Regions from separate parts of the Homo sapiens genome. Here region 1 is linked to region 2. Evidence: fine-mapped expression QTL. Tissue or cell type: whole blood. Region 2 holds a variant in brackets; the other region holds the start of a gene. All regions are shown on one strand. Distances are from middle to middle.

Region 1 (8,185 bases), 38 kb after region 2:
ATCTGATCTATTACATGGTACTAATATGTTGATAGTATTAAATAAATATTACACAACAGTACTCTGACCTGGACCACTTACAGAAAGATGAACAAGAAGAGTAATTCCTCTAAAATATTTCAACTCCCACATCTCTATTCAGCCACCAACCATACTTTACCTATTTACAAGTCTTTCTGTAATACAGGACTGTGGTGAGATTGCCCAGGACAGAATGGGCCCTCAATAAATGCTTTCTGAATGAATGACCAAGCGGCAGTAATCTATCTCTGAGGTATTCTTACAAACCAATTCAATATCAAGACCTCAGAAGCAGAACATGCTGTATGCCATGCTACCACATTTAGGGGCAGGCAAGTTAATTGAAAAATAATTAACAGCGACTAATGTTTGTTGGGAGAAAAAAAGTCCTATCATGTAAGTCAGAAAAATAAATGTAAAAACTATAACTTGAAAATGGACAAAAAAGTGAATCTACTTATAACTTTCTAACATTGAAATACAAGATGTTCTTTAAGGAGTCTTTCATTATCCAGAATAATTTTACAAAGAAATTTGATACCAACTTAAATTAGTAAGTTAGACCAATTAGTGAATGGAATGAAGTCCAAGCCCAATTATGTGTTCAAACTGTGTGTCCAATGCCTTGGGTGATTTTTTCTCTTCAAGACTGCAGAAAAATGCAAAACAACCCTCTTGACTGCTGAGAAGGACTAAAATCATTTCTTTTCCTCACAAGTATGTGCCCAAAAGCAATTACTTTCTGCTCCCATCCATCACAAATCAACACTACCTCCCAGCTTCGCATCCCCCACTTTCCATCCCCATCAAAGAATGCTGTAGAGTATCTGACCACTTTCATTTCACGCTATAAGAACCTCAGATTGCAATAAAATTACAATGCAACAAAAACAAATTTTTCTAAGTATGTTCTTATCCCCCATGGTGTTCCTACACTAATTTAGCTCCCTATTAGGTATTAACAATCAAGGAAATCAGAACACTCTCAATAGAGGTTACAATAGAAATTACAAATGGCCTTTTTTTAAGTTGTTGTTGTTCATGGATTCCAAAATTCAAAGTACACATTACCAGAAGAGCGTTTTTCTGTCAGTGCCTAAATTTAAATGCAAATTACTATTTAATGATATGCAATTTTCCCTCTGAACCTATATATAATACTAATGAGTCAAATGTTTAAGAAGAATAACTGACCATGTTATTTTAGCTTTTAGACAATAAAAAGCTTATTGTCTAATCACCAAGAGATACATCAAAAAACTGGTTGCTATTAGCTCTACACATGAATGGCAGCTTGACAGAGACAAGCTGCTCCAGAAAGATTAGGAACTTCTAGTGACCACAAATGGGGTAAAGCAGAAGGCACATACAGTATCTGTAGCTACCATTTCTACATCAAAAATTCAGTGCCCACAGATATGTAAACTATTAAGCCATCTAAATGAATGTGTGCCTGAAAGAGAAAGGAGAAGCAGAAAAAGTTTACACCCAAATCAACAGAAGAAATCACCCTGCGATTGAGCATCCCAGGACCTGAAAACTTAATGTTTTGAGGTTTATGAACACGTTCAAGTTCCAGTGCAACTATGTTAAAATAAAATTGGGCTGGTGCCAGGCACGGTGGCTCACGCCTGTAATCCCAGCACTTTGGGAGGCCAAGGTGGGCGGATCACCTGAGGTCGGGAGTTCAAGACCAGTCTGACCAACATGGAGAAACCCCGTCTCTACTAAAAATATAAAATCAGCCAGGCGTGTTGGCGCACGCCTGTAATCCCAGCTACTCAGGAGGCTGAGGCAGGAGAATCGCTTAAACCTGGGAGGTGGAGGTTGCAGTGAGCCGAGATTGCGCCATTGCACTCCAGCCTGGGTAACAAGAGCGAAACTAACTCCGTCTCAAAAAAAAAAAAAAAAAATTGGGGCTTGGCACAGTGGCTCACGTCTGTAATCCCAGAACTTTGGGAGGCCGAGGTGGGCAGATCACCTGAGGTCAGGAGTTTGAGACCAGCCTTGCCAACATGGTGAAACCCATCTCTATTAAAAATACAAAAATTAGCAAGGTATGGTGGCACACACATGCCTGCAGTCCCAGCTACTCGGGAGGCTGAGGCAGGAGAATTGCTTGAACCTGGGAGGGGGAGGTTGCTGTGAGCCGAGATTGCGCCACTGCACTCCAACCTGGGCAGCAGAGGGAGGCTCTGTCTCAAAAATAAAATAAAATAAAATAAAATAAAATTGGCATAAAATTCCAACCCTGCCACACATCCTCAAGTTGGAAGACACACAATGGTAACAACAGAAAACACTCTGAGTAGTCTGGTTTACACTCTTCTAGGGACCTCGCATGTTAACTATGAATAAACATAAGTCCTGATAACATCCCAATAAAAGAGTGCTACTATGATTATCTCCATTTTACAGATAAAGAAACTGAGATGCAGATAGATTAACTCACCCAATGTCATGGCGAGTTATAAGGCAGAGCAAGGATTTTAACCCCATCAGTCAGACTCCAAAGTTCGTGTTAAACAATAAACGTGTTTTCATCATAAGGGTTATACAATGGTCACCTTCTTTTTTAAACCTGATAACATATTTTACTTCCAACTCTAGGATAGCATCATGCAATAAGAAAAGTATGACAGAGGTACCCATTCCGTTCCCAGCTTGATCAGTAGCTGGAGAATGGAAGACAAAGTGCAAAAAAAAAAAAAAAAAAAAAAAAAAAAAGAAAAAAAAAGAAAGAAAGAAAGAAAGAAAAAGAAAAAAAGAAATACAAGTACAGACTTTGGAATCACGAGACTCAAACAGACCCCTGAACAAAGTCTGGGGCTCAATTTCCCCATATGTAAAATAAAAGAATTTATGTTATTGAGAAGGTCAAAGAAGGTAATATGAATAAAGTGACAAGTACAGTATACAGGATGGGGGTTTTCATTTAAAGTTTACAGACACCCAGAGGGTCCACGGATGGGCTTCAGAGTCCACCAATCTCATTAAGTGTATTACAAACTGTATGTGTGCCCATTTTTTAAAGAATTGTTCCTGGCTTTCCACAAACTTTCAAGAAATAAGTTATCTCCAAAAAGTTAAGAACCACTGGAATACATAGCAGGTACTCAAAGAAAAAAGCTACCTTTCGCTCCTTGTTCTCACAAATTCTCCCTTTTTACTTAAAGATGACACACCAAGGCTTCACAATAAATGTGCATTGTATCTCACCATTTTCTTGGCTTGGGTAAGTAGTAACATATGCAAGCTTATGCCCCAATTCTCTAGCGATAGTCTAGGCCCTCAAACACTGCTTCATTTCTCTCTTCACCGAGAGGAGTACACGGTATATACTCGAGAACAATCATCCACCTAGCTGCACAAAGCACCATATCGGCTAGGAAAACCAAATAGGAACCACAGCCTCAGGGCTGGACCATAGACACCGGATACCCCAACGCTACAGGGTGAGGAGAATGTGTTCCCCCAAACTACTGGGCAAACCAGGAGTCTGAACCCCCCTACCCTTTTCCTCCCTCTCTCTCTGGAACTCTGGTAAAGGCAGGTCTTCTGGGCTCTGCCTAAGGCTGGAGAGAAACGTTACCCGAGCCGGGGGTTGCAGCGCGACGAAGTTCCACCTCCGCTGTCCTGGGAAGGGGCGGCAGCACTCAGCAGAAGACGGGCTCCCCACTCTCCCACCAACAGACCCCAGAGTTGGTCTCCACCCGGCCTGGGAACCGGCTCGGGGGATTGCCCTTTCCCCAAGGAGTTTCCGCTTCCGGGCTATCCTTTGCCGGAAGCAGTATGTGAATGACGTAGAAGTATTGCGCCGTTGGTGATTACGGAAGAACCAGGAGTTTGGCGTGACCATGGTGAGAGAAGACGGTCCAAGAAGGGACGTTATCAGGCCACTTTTTGGGTGGAGAAGGAGGTAGTCAGACCGTGGCCAAATTTCCTTCACATTATCCTAGCATATTTTCATTCTGGTCTTAGCTCTTAAACTTCTCCAAGCGGTGACTGTTATGCTTTACAGAGTGGGGAAGAGGGTCTGGGTTATTTGAGGCAAGAAGGGAAGGCAATAGACAAGAGAAAAGAAGAGACTTTAAAAGATGCCGTGTGTTTCCAACTTTTTTAATTCTAAAATTTCTGTTTCAAGGGGAAGCAAAAGAAAACAAGGAAGTATGCGACCATGAAGCGAATGCTTAGTCTCAGAGATCAGAGGCTGTGAGTGTCTGGAATCAACTGCCCAGGGATATTCTAATAAGAGTCTAGAGAGGATAAGTAGTAAAAATGTTTGTTGTTATTATTTTGTTTTTTGCTTATTATCGTGTCTTAGATTTATATAGCATGAGATAGCCAGTGTTTAACAGTAATTTAGCTGCTGAGCGATCACACTGGGAAAGGCGATGGGAATTAAACATTTCTTAAGTGTTCACTTTTTCTACCGTTATATGCTTTGTCTGCCATATCGCATTTAAACCTCATGTCAGTTCGGTGAAGTCCGTATAGTTCTCTTTATGTTTTTACCATTACACTACTACATTCCCCTGGGGTGGGGCGAGGGGAGTGTTTCTTGTTGAAAGATGGCAAGGTTAGAGACCTTGTTTGTCTGGCGTTTCCAGTGCCTGGTACTCAAATATTTTTGTCAGAGAAAATGGGAAAACTCCAAGATATCTCCATTTTATAAGTCTTACTAATATAAGAATCCAAATCACTGTGGAAGAAGAAAGTGAAGTGAAATTCCCTAGTATGAAGAGGATCAAAGCGGTGTCCCTGCTTAAGTGTAGAATAAGCATAGCTATTAAATAAAGACTGATCTTCACTGAGTTTAAGAGTCTCAGAAAGCCGGGCGCAGTGGCTCACGCCTGTAATCCCAGCACTTTGGGAGGCTGAGGCGGGTGGATCACCTGAGGTGAGGAGTTCAAAACCAGCCTGGCCAACACGGTGAAACCCTGTCTCCACTAAAAATACAAAAAAGAGTCTCAGAATAAGAGAATAGTCGTTAAAACCTTCAGAATTATTATTCTCAGCCTTTAGTGTGGATGTATTGTGTAATTTTTAGGAATGACACTCCATTAATAATAATTTCTTTCTAGTTAAGGGTTAAGTTCTGTATATGCGTTTTTACATTTTAGCCCTTTATAAGAAGCATATGGGGTAATACTTTTCCCCCAAAAGTTAAAGCATCTGAATCTTCAGAAGATAACTGTCACCCTTTTACCCATTGCTTGGAAGTGGATTGTGATCCTTGATGTGAGAGATTCTGACTAAAAAATAAATATAGTATAATCAGCTTTTATTTACTCATTAACAATTCTTATGCATTATTGGCATTACTGGTTAATTCTGATACTTCCAGGTACTGTGCTTTGCACTAGAGTTATTTGCTCAGAAAGAGTATGCTGATATTAACATGAGGATATCACAAAGTAGGATTTCTTCAGTAGACCAAAAAAAAAAAAAAATGGAACTTTAGATTTTTGAGATTTTAATTGCTGTGGTTTTTCTTCTCCCTTGGATTTAATTTACCTTTTTCTTCCTAGTAAAGAAAAGGATAGATTAAAACCTAAAAAGAAAGAAAAGAAGGATCCCAGCGCATTAAAGGAAAGAGAAGTGTGAGTAATCAAACGTTTGAAGTTTTCCTTTAAAACCATAGACCTCTTAGAAATCCAGGCTTTCCCTGAGCTGGTTTGCTAACTTATTTGTTAGTAAGTCTAGCACAACTATGTAGATGAAAGTCATATCGATGAGCATATATCAATTCTAGTGGTTTGAAGGTTTTGGGATTTTATGGAGCAGTAAAATTTCCCCTAAAATCCTGGAGATATTATCTAGGATTATTAACTTTTTCTTTGCCAGGGATCTTTTAAGAGACATAAGTGCCATTGTTTAACACACCAGCAGTTCATAAAAGAGAGACTGTATCACCAAAAAATATTTAAAATATATTTTCAGAATAAAGATATTTATATAAAGATATGACCTTTATATAAAGATATAAAGGTATTTCATTCCTTTTAAGTAAGTACATTTAACTTTATGAAAACTTTACCACATTTTCCTTATTTTTCTAATTTTTCCCTGGATTGGTAATGGACATATTATCACAGGTAGATACTGATCCATGGCCTAGCATTTGGAATCACTGTCATATTCAACCCAGACAACTTGGGCTAGATGTGATACAGGTCCTGCTGTAGTATATAATCCTAACACTAGACAAACTGTTCTCTATCACATTCCATAACAGCAGTTTTAGAATCCTTTAAGAATGACAAACGTGTTGTTGTATCATTCTAATCACGATAACTGTATTCTACCTCCCTGTGCCCATGGTGATTCTACTTTTGCTAGAGGAAGAGCTAGATTGGATAATTGCTTTTTTTGTTTGTTTGTTTTTGATAATTGCTTTTTTAAAGTTGGTGACAAAGGTTGCCAGGGGAGCTGAGATTAAGATAATGATATTACTTTCTTCCTTGCCTTCCTTTTTAGGATTTATTTCCAATGAACATGGACAAAAGAGTTTACAGCAAACAGTCCCAAGCAGACTTCTTTTTTGTTTTTGTTAATACTAGGGTATCAATGTAAATTTTTCTTTGTTCTTGTTTTCTTTTTCCTTCAGTCCCCAACACCCTTCCTGCTTATTTTTCCAATATAATACACAGCTGGGCCCACCTTACCACATCCTCGTTGATACCAACTTTATCAACTTTTCCATAAAAGCCAAACTGGACTTAGTGCAGTCAATGATGGACTGTCTGTATGCCAAGTGTGAGTATCATACTTTTATGTTTCCGTGACATTTGTTCAGAATAATTATATTTATACAAATACATGAAAGGAGGGAGATGGGGTTCTTGTTAACTGAATTGCTGGCCATTTAATTTACAGTGGTCACCATAGCAGTGACCATGTTTAATGAATTGAAGTATAATGCAAACTTGACTGGAAAAAATTAAACTTTCACAATTCAGAAAACACTTAGAATGCTTCGAGTATCATTATGGACATCAATTTTGAACATAGGGGAATTTTCTGTTTTAGAATTCTAGATTTTAAAATTCTAGATAAATGAAAAATCTATTTTTCAGTATCTATATTCTTTTATGTTAACAAGGATATGTTCTCCCTTTTGCCCCAGTGTTGAAACACTAAATAAGACATTCTGCCATTTATGATCACAGCCCTAGAAGTTAGATAGATGATGGTCAATTCCTAAGTTTATTCAGTTTGGTATTTATTCGTAGTACAGAGGATCTGAGGTAGTTTATTTACACCTAGGTATGCAATTTACCATTAATAGATTTCCCTTGTGTATTTGTATATCCCCTCCTTTAAATGATCTTCCTTCACTACCATGAACAGGAAAAAGAAAAGTAAGGCCATCTATGAAGCCTATCATAGTAAGATCTGTCCCATTTGTAGCGGGTTTATATTTATATATTTTTCAGTCACCCGGTTAGAGGTACGAATGAAAATTAGACTTAAACTTTGCCATAGAGGATAAATTACTGGAATCAAAGGGAAAAATTTGTACCTCCCTTTTTAAGTTTTAAAGGCTACTATATAATGAACAACAGTTGCAGAGTGATAGAAATGGTAAATGTTGTTTACTGATTTATTAAAATGAGCAAGATGAGAAGATGGGGTTAAGGAATGTGTGAAGGGGTAAGAAAGCAGATTCTTTAGATGCCCAAAAATTAATTAAGAATGGCTGCAGCCGGGCGCAGTGGCTCATACCTGTAATCCCAGCACTCGCGGTGGCTCACGCCTGTAATGCCAGCACTTTGGGAGGCCAAAGCAGGCGGATCATGAGGTCGAGATCGAGACCATTCTGGCCAACAAGGTGAAACCCCATATCTACTAAAAATACAAAAATTAGCTGGGCGTGGTGGCACGTGACTGTAGTCCCAGCTACTTGGGAGGCTGAGGCAGGAGAATCGCTGGAACCTGGGAGGTGGAGCTTGCAGTGAGCCGAGATTGTGCCACTGCACTCCAGCCTGGCAAGAGAAACTCCATCTAAAAAAAAAAAAGAATGGCTGCATACATTTATTAGCTGCATACGTTTATTAAGATGTGAAGGTAGCCATCAGATGAGAAAAAAATGGAGCTAATGGAATAAAATAGTCTTCTCTACAGATCAGAATTGATTGGGTGGCAATGGTCAGGGGACCAT
Region 2 (8,185 bases):
TCAAAACTGACCTTCTTCATCCTGGAAAACAACCTCAAAGTTCTTGCTCCAATCTGAGATGGAGAAATTCCGAGTGGCTTTCAGAGACTGAAAAGAAGTGAAAGGAAGGGAATTGTCAGAACACTGGCTGGTGTCCTCTGGATGTTAAAGACAACACAAGAGCACTGCCATTGTCTGCTGGACTAACTACGACTGCCTGAAGGAGATATGTTACTCATAAACAAGCTTTAATGATACCACCTGACATTTAAAATGCACATAACTTCAAATTTAAAGTTTTAAAAAATAATCTGATTTGCCTTTACATCATCACTTTGTTGGAAAGCTGAAGTTGTTTTTTTCTTTTCCTTTTGTTTTAAACAATCCTTGTTTTAGCAATGAAAACATTCTTGCATAAAGAAGTAAAAAATGACTCAAGTCAGTAAGCTGTAGGCAAAAGAACCAAGGAATCCTGGTTTTCAGCAAAGTATGATCTATCCACTAGACATATTTATCCACAAGGCTAGGTTCAGACAGCGAGCCATGCCACACGGAGAATATGGCTGAGAAAACGGGTTTCCAGTCACACCTACCAGAGCCAAACATCACAAACACTTTCTGGACAGGAACCAAGCCTTCTCATTCCTGGGGAATGTAAGAACTATGCCAGTGTCTGTGCAGTGGAGACAGACACACATCAGGTGTTCCTTTTCCATCAGACCAAAGTGACAACAAAAATCATTTCCTTTTAATTCAACAAGCGCTCTATTCCAGGGATTCAATAACAAGAAGTTTCTTCTGTAATCACTATTTACACCTGCCCTACATGGGAGTTCCAAGGGACCCATTCAGTAGATTTGAAGGCCAGTAAGTAAACTGCTCTTCCCTCGATAACATACCTCCAACAAAACTGCCCCAAATTTAGTAGAATCAAATAGAAGAACAGACATATGTAAAGAGAGAAATTTAGGTTTCAGAAATTTAGTATATCTGTCTTTTATAAGTATATCTGTCTTTTATAAGTATATCTATATCTTTACTTAAACAGAGAAATTTAAGTTTCATGAAAAAGATAACCAGATCAGGCATGGTAGCTCATGCCTGTAATCCCAACACTTTGGGAGGCTGAGGCGGGTGTATCACTTGAGTCCAGGAGTTCGAGACCAGCCGGAGCAATATGGCAAAATCCCATCTTTACAAAAAATACAAAAATTAGCCAGGCATGGTGACACATACCTATAGTCCCAGCTATTTGGGAGGCTGAGTTGGGAGGATCACAGCCCGGGAAGATCGAGGCTGCAGTGAGCCATGATCGCACCTCTGCACCCCAGCCTGGGCAATAGAGTGAGACCCTATCTCCCAAACAAAAACAAAAACAAAAACAGTAACCTGCAGAATATAGACATTCAATTGGAAAACTTTGGTATCTGCTGACAGAGATGAAATTTTACCTACCGATTCCAACAAGGCATGTCTGCTGACCTTCAGGGTGACTTTGGAATGTGGTCTTTTCATATGTACCTGCCGAAGCTCTCGCTGGAAAAAGTTCACCTTGTCCTGAAAGGTCTCAGAGCCTCCTGGGGAACAGCAAGATCCATCATTACAGCCTCATTACAAGCCATCTGTGTAGTCCTGCCTCTCCACCCTCATGGATGTGGCTGGGCTCACTACCTTCCCTATAGAATCCCTGTGTAACCTCACCTATGTTCTTATGCAGGGAGCGGATAAAAGTGGCTGCTAGAATGTTCCTCTCCTTACAGCTGAGCTCCACAGGAGGTTGAATGCCATCATCCACCACCAGTGTGAGCAGCTTATGGACAGGGTCAGGACCAAGGTATGAAAACTGGTAAAGAAAAACAAAGAAATTAATCTATAAAACCCTCAAGGCCAGTAAAAGTCCTCCACAGCTCTATCCTGTGTACCAACCAACAACAATAAGTTAGGCTTGTTTTCTCCAAATGAGGACCTACCAGAAATACATTTCATTATTTTTCCCTTCAGTGATTTACATTTCAACATTTAAAATTATTTTAGTCACAGAGACTGCCTTTAGTTAGGACCACCAGCAAAACTACAGACCTTCTAACATAAAATATAAGAAGGGTGATATGTTAAATAGCAATAAATGGCAATACGGTGATATATTAAATAGCAATAGTAAGGATATATTAAACAGCAATAAATGACTACTCCAAACTGATCAGAAGAAAACTATTTTTATAAAATGGCACATTCTAGCCTTTGGGCAAAAGTTTAGATTCCAGAAGCCCAGAAAAGTTAACAACAAACAAACAATGTATTTTAATATATGAGAGTGGTGCTTCTAAAAGGAGTTAGCTTCAGCACACTGGGAGACCAAGCTTGGGCCAGAGTTACAAACATCTTCTCTATTAACTTAGTCTTGAAGGCAAAGGATCACTGTTGAAGTATTCTGAGTTGCTGCTAATTCCTGTTTCTGTAGGCATGCGTCCTTCCAGAATTTATATATTCTTCATGCCATTTAGTGAGGAGATAATGATGCTTTATTTGGCAACGAATCCTGTGTACACTGTGAGATCTTGCAGAAACACTAAAAGTGCTTCTGAGAAAAAATAAAAGGCTGAGATAGTCCAGAGATGAAGCATGCTTGATGTGAACCAGATGTAAGGTTCAGCTTACTTTTGTTCCTGGACACACTCGGAAGGTGTAAAGGCGCCAGGGGATGATCTTCAGGTAGAACTCCTTCACTGAGAATTGCTGGAGGACCAACAGACAGGAAATGAAGTGAATGATAAATAAAAAGGCTCTATTTGGGTATTCTAATTCAAATATCATAGTCCCTATTTACATTTCTCATAACCTTTCCTCTCCATGGACAAAAGTAATAATTTAGTGAGTACTAAAGTCAAATAAATACATTAACTCTCTATTTAAAAAGGCAAATTAAAAATATTACCCTGATGGCCAAGTGTGGATGGCTCACATCTATAATCTCAGCACTTTGGGAGGCCGAGGCAGGCAGATCACTTGAGGCCAGGAGTTCAAGACCAGCCTGGCCAACATGGCAAAACTCAGTCTCTACTAAAAATACAAAAAAATTAGCTGGGTGCGGTAGCTCATGCCTGTAATCCCAAGTACTCGGGAGGCTGAGGCACAAGAATCGCTTGAACCCGGGAGGCAGAGGGTGCAGTGAGCTGAGATTGGACCATGGCACTCCAGCATGGGTGACAAAGTGAGACCCTGTCTCAAAAAATAAAATAAATAAAAAAAATATGACTGACAATGCAGTTTCACACAGAGATATTTCATAATTGTAATACTCAAGTCTTTCTAAATATCTGGGATCAGGTTTTCACTTTATGAGAACAGAATATTTCACCTAGAAACAATCAAAATCTCCTTCTGCTCAGCCCCATGATGCTCAGAATGACTTCCTCCAAGTTACTGGATAGCAAACACCAGCAACCCATACACACTGCTTTATACCTATTTGAATGGTGCCAAGGATCTGCCAGGGAAGGGAGGCAAGATGGGGTGAGCTGGAGTGGAATATGTTGGTGGTATAGGGGAAGGTCCTCACACAAAAAAGTTCATACAAAAGAGGAAAAGACAATGCAAAAATTTTTTAATCTTAAAAAATCCCTTTTATCTGAATGTGCAGGTCAGTTGTTTTCTTGATAAAAAAAAGTTTAAAGAAAATTTCAAACACATACTAAAGAAGACAAAGAAGTATAATGAAACTATCAGCTGCTTCAACAATTATCAATTCATAGCCAATCTTGTTTCATTTATTCACTTACCCATTTCCCTCATTACCATCACCCCTAGTCCAAATTAAGGCTAGATTTTTAAATGAAGAATGGTACACAGCAAAGTGTTCTGAAGTAGAACAGAATTAGAACTCAGTTTTGGTTATGAGATTAAAGAGATGCAATGGGATGTTTCACAGAGTCTCATTTTTATGAGGACTGAATGAATAAGGAAAAACAAATATTAAAAAGAAACTAACACAAAGTGCTTCTTAGCTCAGGGGCTTGGGAAATTCACCTTCTTTCCTCTGCCAAAATTTCTTTACTCCAATCCTGTAGCCTAATAGTGACATCCATTTACTGTGGTTTCATGAATCACAGAACAAAAGATCAAATTGTTTTGACACAGCACAAGAAGCCAACAGTAATTTTTATGCTAGCAAGAAATTTTTAACAGTTGAAAGTGGCTTTCTATACAACTAGTTAACAATCTTGCCCTGATTCTCAGACTGTTACTTTGTGGTTTCTGCTACCAAATACCAATTACACACAGGTTCAAGCAGGGGGATTTTATGTCGAGAATGGAAGGTCCAACCTTTGGTGACACATAGCAGTACACCTTCTTCGGTTTCTTCACCTTCTCAGGGGTGTGGCACTCAGAGGGCGAGTCTTCATCTTCCTCGTCAACAGCAGTGGATGGCCGGCGCTGGGAAGAGGTCATGTGCATGGGTGGCAGGTGCCATGGAGTGCTGCTACAGTTGGTAGCATTATAAAGATAAGCCTCAAAGTAAATGCTCAC[G/A]CCTGAAGTGGACACATTGCGTTCGACGATATTCTTCTCATCCTCTGAAGTATAATAAGGAATAAGGTTTAAAGTAGAAGTCAGAGAAGAAAAAAATTACCTATCACAGGCTTTTAGTCCACAGGACAAGCCAAATGTGGCCCAAATATCAAATGTTTGTGAGGTCAGACAAAAGAGTGCAAACAGGCAAAGAAACGGCTGAAGAACAGCACTAAATCATACTTTTCTTTTAACTTACCACTTAGGACAATAATGTCAAATTCACCATTATTGATTGGCTGATTTTGGTATGAAATGCAAGCATGGAAGCAGCCTCGAGAATGCAGGGTGAGTCGCAAGAACACCTGGAAAGTCTGCCTGTTGGATGTTACTGATTTCTCAAATGAGACACCAGTACTCTCTTCTTCTTGAGGGCCGAGCTATAGGAAGGCAACAGAGCATCACTTAACATATAGTATTTTCCCATTTACAAGCCACTTTACTCCTTACAAAGAGCTTTCCTATCTATGATCTAATCTAAATCACAAAATTACTAATGAGACAGGTATTGTCAGATGAAGATACAGACAGCACAGAAGTCAAGGAGAAGGAAAGAGAGATCGAAGTGAATTAGGTGTGAGAATAACAGAGAAAGGAGCCAGCTCTCTCTAGCACACAGATAAAGAAGGGAGACTGCTTACCTCATGAATGGACAAGGTGTAATTGTGCTCATCTCTCAAGGACATGGAATTGTTGGTGGGATTATCATACTCATCTCGGGGTACTATTTGAAGGGTGTGCGGCTGCCCACAGGTCAATACAAGAGTAGAAAAGTGGCACACAATTTTGGTCTTAGAAGGAACCACCATTCCTGGAACAAAGACAATGGAATCTAACATTTATTTATTTTATTTTTTTATTTTTATTTTTTTTGAGATGGAGTCTCGCTCTTTCGCCCAGGCTGGAGTGCAGTGGCGCAATCTCGGCTCACTGCAAGCTCTGCCTTCCGGGCTCATGCCATTCTCCTGCCTCAGCCTCCCGAGTAGCTGGGACTATAGGTGCCCGCCACCATGCCCAGAGAATTTTTTTTTGTATTTTTAGTGGAGACGGGGTTTCACTGTGTTAGCCAGGATAGTCTCGATCTCCTGACCTCCTGATCCGCCCGCCTTGGCCTCCCAAAGTGCTGGGATTACAGGCGTGAGCCACCACGCCCGGCTGGAATCTAACATTTAAAGGTGCTCTTCAGGGCACAAAGATCTGCTCAGTGGGTCCTAGAAAGCTAGGTTTCCTCCCAATTCCTAGGGATAAATAACACTATCAAGAGGAAGAGAGGCCAGGTGCGGTGGCTCACACGTGTAATCCCAGCACTTTGGGAGGCCAAGGCCAGAGAATCCCTTAAGGATCCCTTAAGAAGTTCAAGACCAGCTTGAGCAACATAGCAAGACCATCTCTACAAAAAATAAAAATTAGCCAGGCATGGTGGTTCATGCCTGTGTCCCAGCTACTCAGGAAGCTAAGGCAAGAGGATCACTTTTGCCCAGGAGGTAAAGGCTACAGTGAGCTATGACCACACCATTGCATTCTAGCCTGTGTGACAAAGGGAGACCCTGTCTCTCTCCTTTTTTTTTTTTTTTTTTTTTTTTGAGACAGAGTCACGCTCTGTCACCCAAGCTGGAATGCAGTGGCACGATCTCGGCTCACTGCAACCTCTGCCTGTCGGGTTCAAGCGATTCTCCTGCCTCAGCTGAGTAGCTGGGACTACAGGCACCCGCCACTACACCCAGCTAATTTTTGTATTTTTAGTAGAGACAGCGTTTCACCATATTGGCCAGGCTGGTCTCAAACTCCCCACCTTGTAATTTGCCCGCCTCGGCCTCCCAAAGTGCTGGAATTACAGGCGTAAGCCACGGTGCCCAGCTAACCCTGTCTCTTTATTAAAAAAAAAAAAAAGAGGAAAAAACAGAAATAGAGAAATTTAAATGAATTTGGGGAATTATTTTTGTTACAAATTCTTAACCACTGCAAACCCTAAGTAAAATGAAAAAAACTTGGAAGAAATAAAACAAAAAAACCAACAAACAACTAAACAAATGGAGACATGTTTATGGAAGATCCAACATAGTACAGATGTCAATTTTCCCCAAATTGATATATAGGTTTAACACAATTCTTATCAAAGTTCCAGCAAGATTATTTATAGATTTAGTTAAGATTATTCTAAAATTTAAATGGAAAGGCAAAGGAACTAGAATACTAAAACAATTTTGAAAAAGAAGAATAAAGTGGAGTCAGCTTACCAATTTCAAGACTTATTATAAGAGCTACAGTAATCAGGCTGTGTGACTTGGCTCACGCCTGTAATCCCAACACTTTGGAAGGCCAAAGCAGGAAGATTACTTGAGTCCAGGAGTTCGAGACCACCCTGGGCAACATAGTGAGACCCTATTCCTACAAAAAAGATAAAAAATTAGCTAAGCACGGTGGTGCACGCCTGTAGTCCCAGCTACTCGGGAGGTTGAGGCAGGAGGATCACTTGAACCCAGGAGGCCAAGGCTGCAGTGAATCATGATCGCACCACTGCACTCAGCCTGGGTGACAGAGTGAGACCCTGCCTCAAAAAAAAAAAAGAAAAGAAGAGGGAGCTACAGAAATCAAGATTCTGTGGTACTGGAGGAGGGATAGGTACACAGATTAATGAAATAAGCCCCCACAAATATGTCCAACTGCTTTTTGATAAAGGTACAAAAGCAATGTAATAGAAAATGAAAGATCACCTTTCCAACAAATGATGCTGGAGTAAAGACATGTATAAGCAAAAAAAAAAAAAAAAAAAAGAGGACCTTGACCCAAATCTATTAAAATTAACTAAAAATGGATCATGACCCTAAATACACATTTTCAAACTGTAAAAACTTTTGGGAAAAAAAGAGAACATCTTCAGGATCTGAGACCAAAGATTTCTTAGACACCAACAGTTTGACCATAAAAGAAAAAAATGGATGCACTGGATTTCTTTCTTTCTTTTTTGAGACAGGGTCTCACTTTGTCACCCAGGCTGGAGTGTAGTGGCAAGATCACAGCTCACTGCAGCCTCAACCTCCTGGGCTTGTTATCCTACCACCTCACTTCTCCACCCTACTCCCCAGTAGCTGGGACTAAAGGTGCACGCCACCACACCCAGCTAATTTATAAATTTTTTGTAGAGATGAGGTCTCACTATGTTGCCCAGGCCGGTCTTGAACTCCTGGGCTCAAGTGATTCTCCCACCTCAGAAAGTGGATTTCATCAAAATTGAAAACATGTGCTCTGTGAATAACTCTGTTAAGGGAATAAGAAGAAAAGCTCAGCCTGAGCAACATGGCAAAGCCCCATCTCTACAAAAAATATAAAAATTAGCCAGGTGTGGTGGCACATGCCACAGTCCCAGCAACTTGGGAGGCTGAGATGGGAGATCACCTAAGCCGGGAGAGGTCAAGGCTGCAGTGAGCCATGACTATGCTACTGCACGCCATCATGGGTGACAGAGTGATACCCTGTCTCCAAAAAGAAATAAAGAAAAGCTACAGATGGGGAGAAAATATTTGCAGACCATATGTTTAACAAAGGACTAGCATATAGAATATATACAGAACTCTCAAAAGTCAACAGTAAAAAGCCAAAATGGGCCGGGCACGGTGGTTCATGCCTGTAATCCTAGCAC

Evidence for each region. PIP is the estimated chance that this variant, and not a neighbour inherited with it, causes the effect.
Region 1: it holds the start of AREL1, and the variant in region 2 is fine-mapped to the expression of AREL1 in whole blood (TOPMed, PIP above 0.99).

What each region holds. Positions count from the first base shown.
Region 1 is chr14:74,709,320-74,717,504 of GRCh38, forward strand. It overlaps AREL1 (apoptosis resistant E3 ubiquitin protein ligase 1), which reads right to left and starts at 3,761. Exons shown (of 20, transcript NM_001039479.2): 1 at 3,614-3,761. It overlaps FCF1 (FCF1 rRNA-processing protein), which reads left to right and starts at 3,825. Exons shown (of 8, transcript NM_015962.5): 1 at 3,825-3,881; 2 at 4,166-4,233; 3 at 5,553-5,624; 4 at 6,632-6,780. The coding sequence starts at 3,879. RefSeq lists an enhancer at 3,659-3,938.
Region 2 is chr14:74,671,397-74,679,581 of GRCh38, forward strand. It overlaps AREL1 (apoptosis resistant E3 ubiquitin protein ligase 1), which reads right to left. Exons shown (of 20, transcript NM_001039479.2): 6 at 5,187-5,356; 7 at 4,745-4,925; 8 at 4,303-4,550; 9 at 2,638-2,715; 10 at 1,681-1,822; 11 at 1,435-1,556; 12 at 12-87. Among named protein-coding and RNA genes, the nearest start is that of AREL1, 38 kb to the right of the region's middle. The variant G/A (reference allele first, on the strand shown) is at 4,507.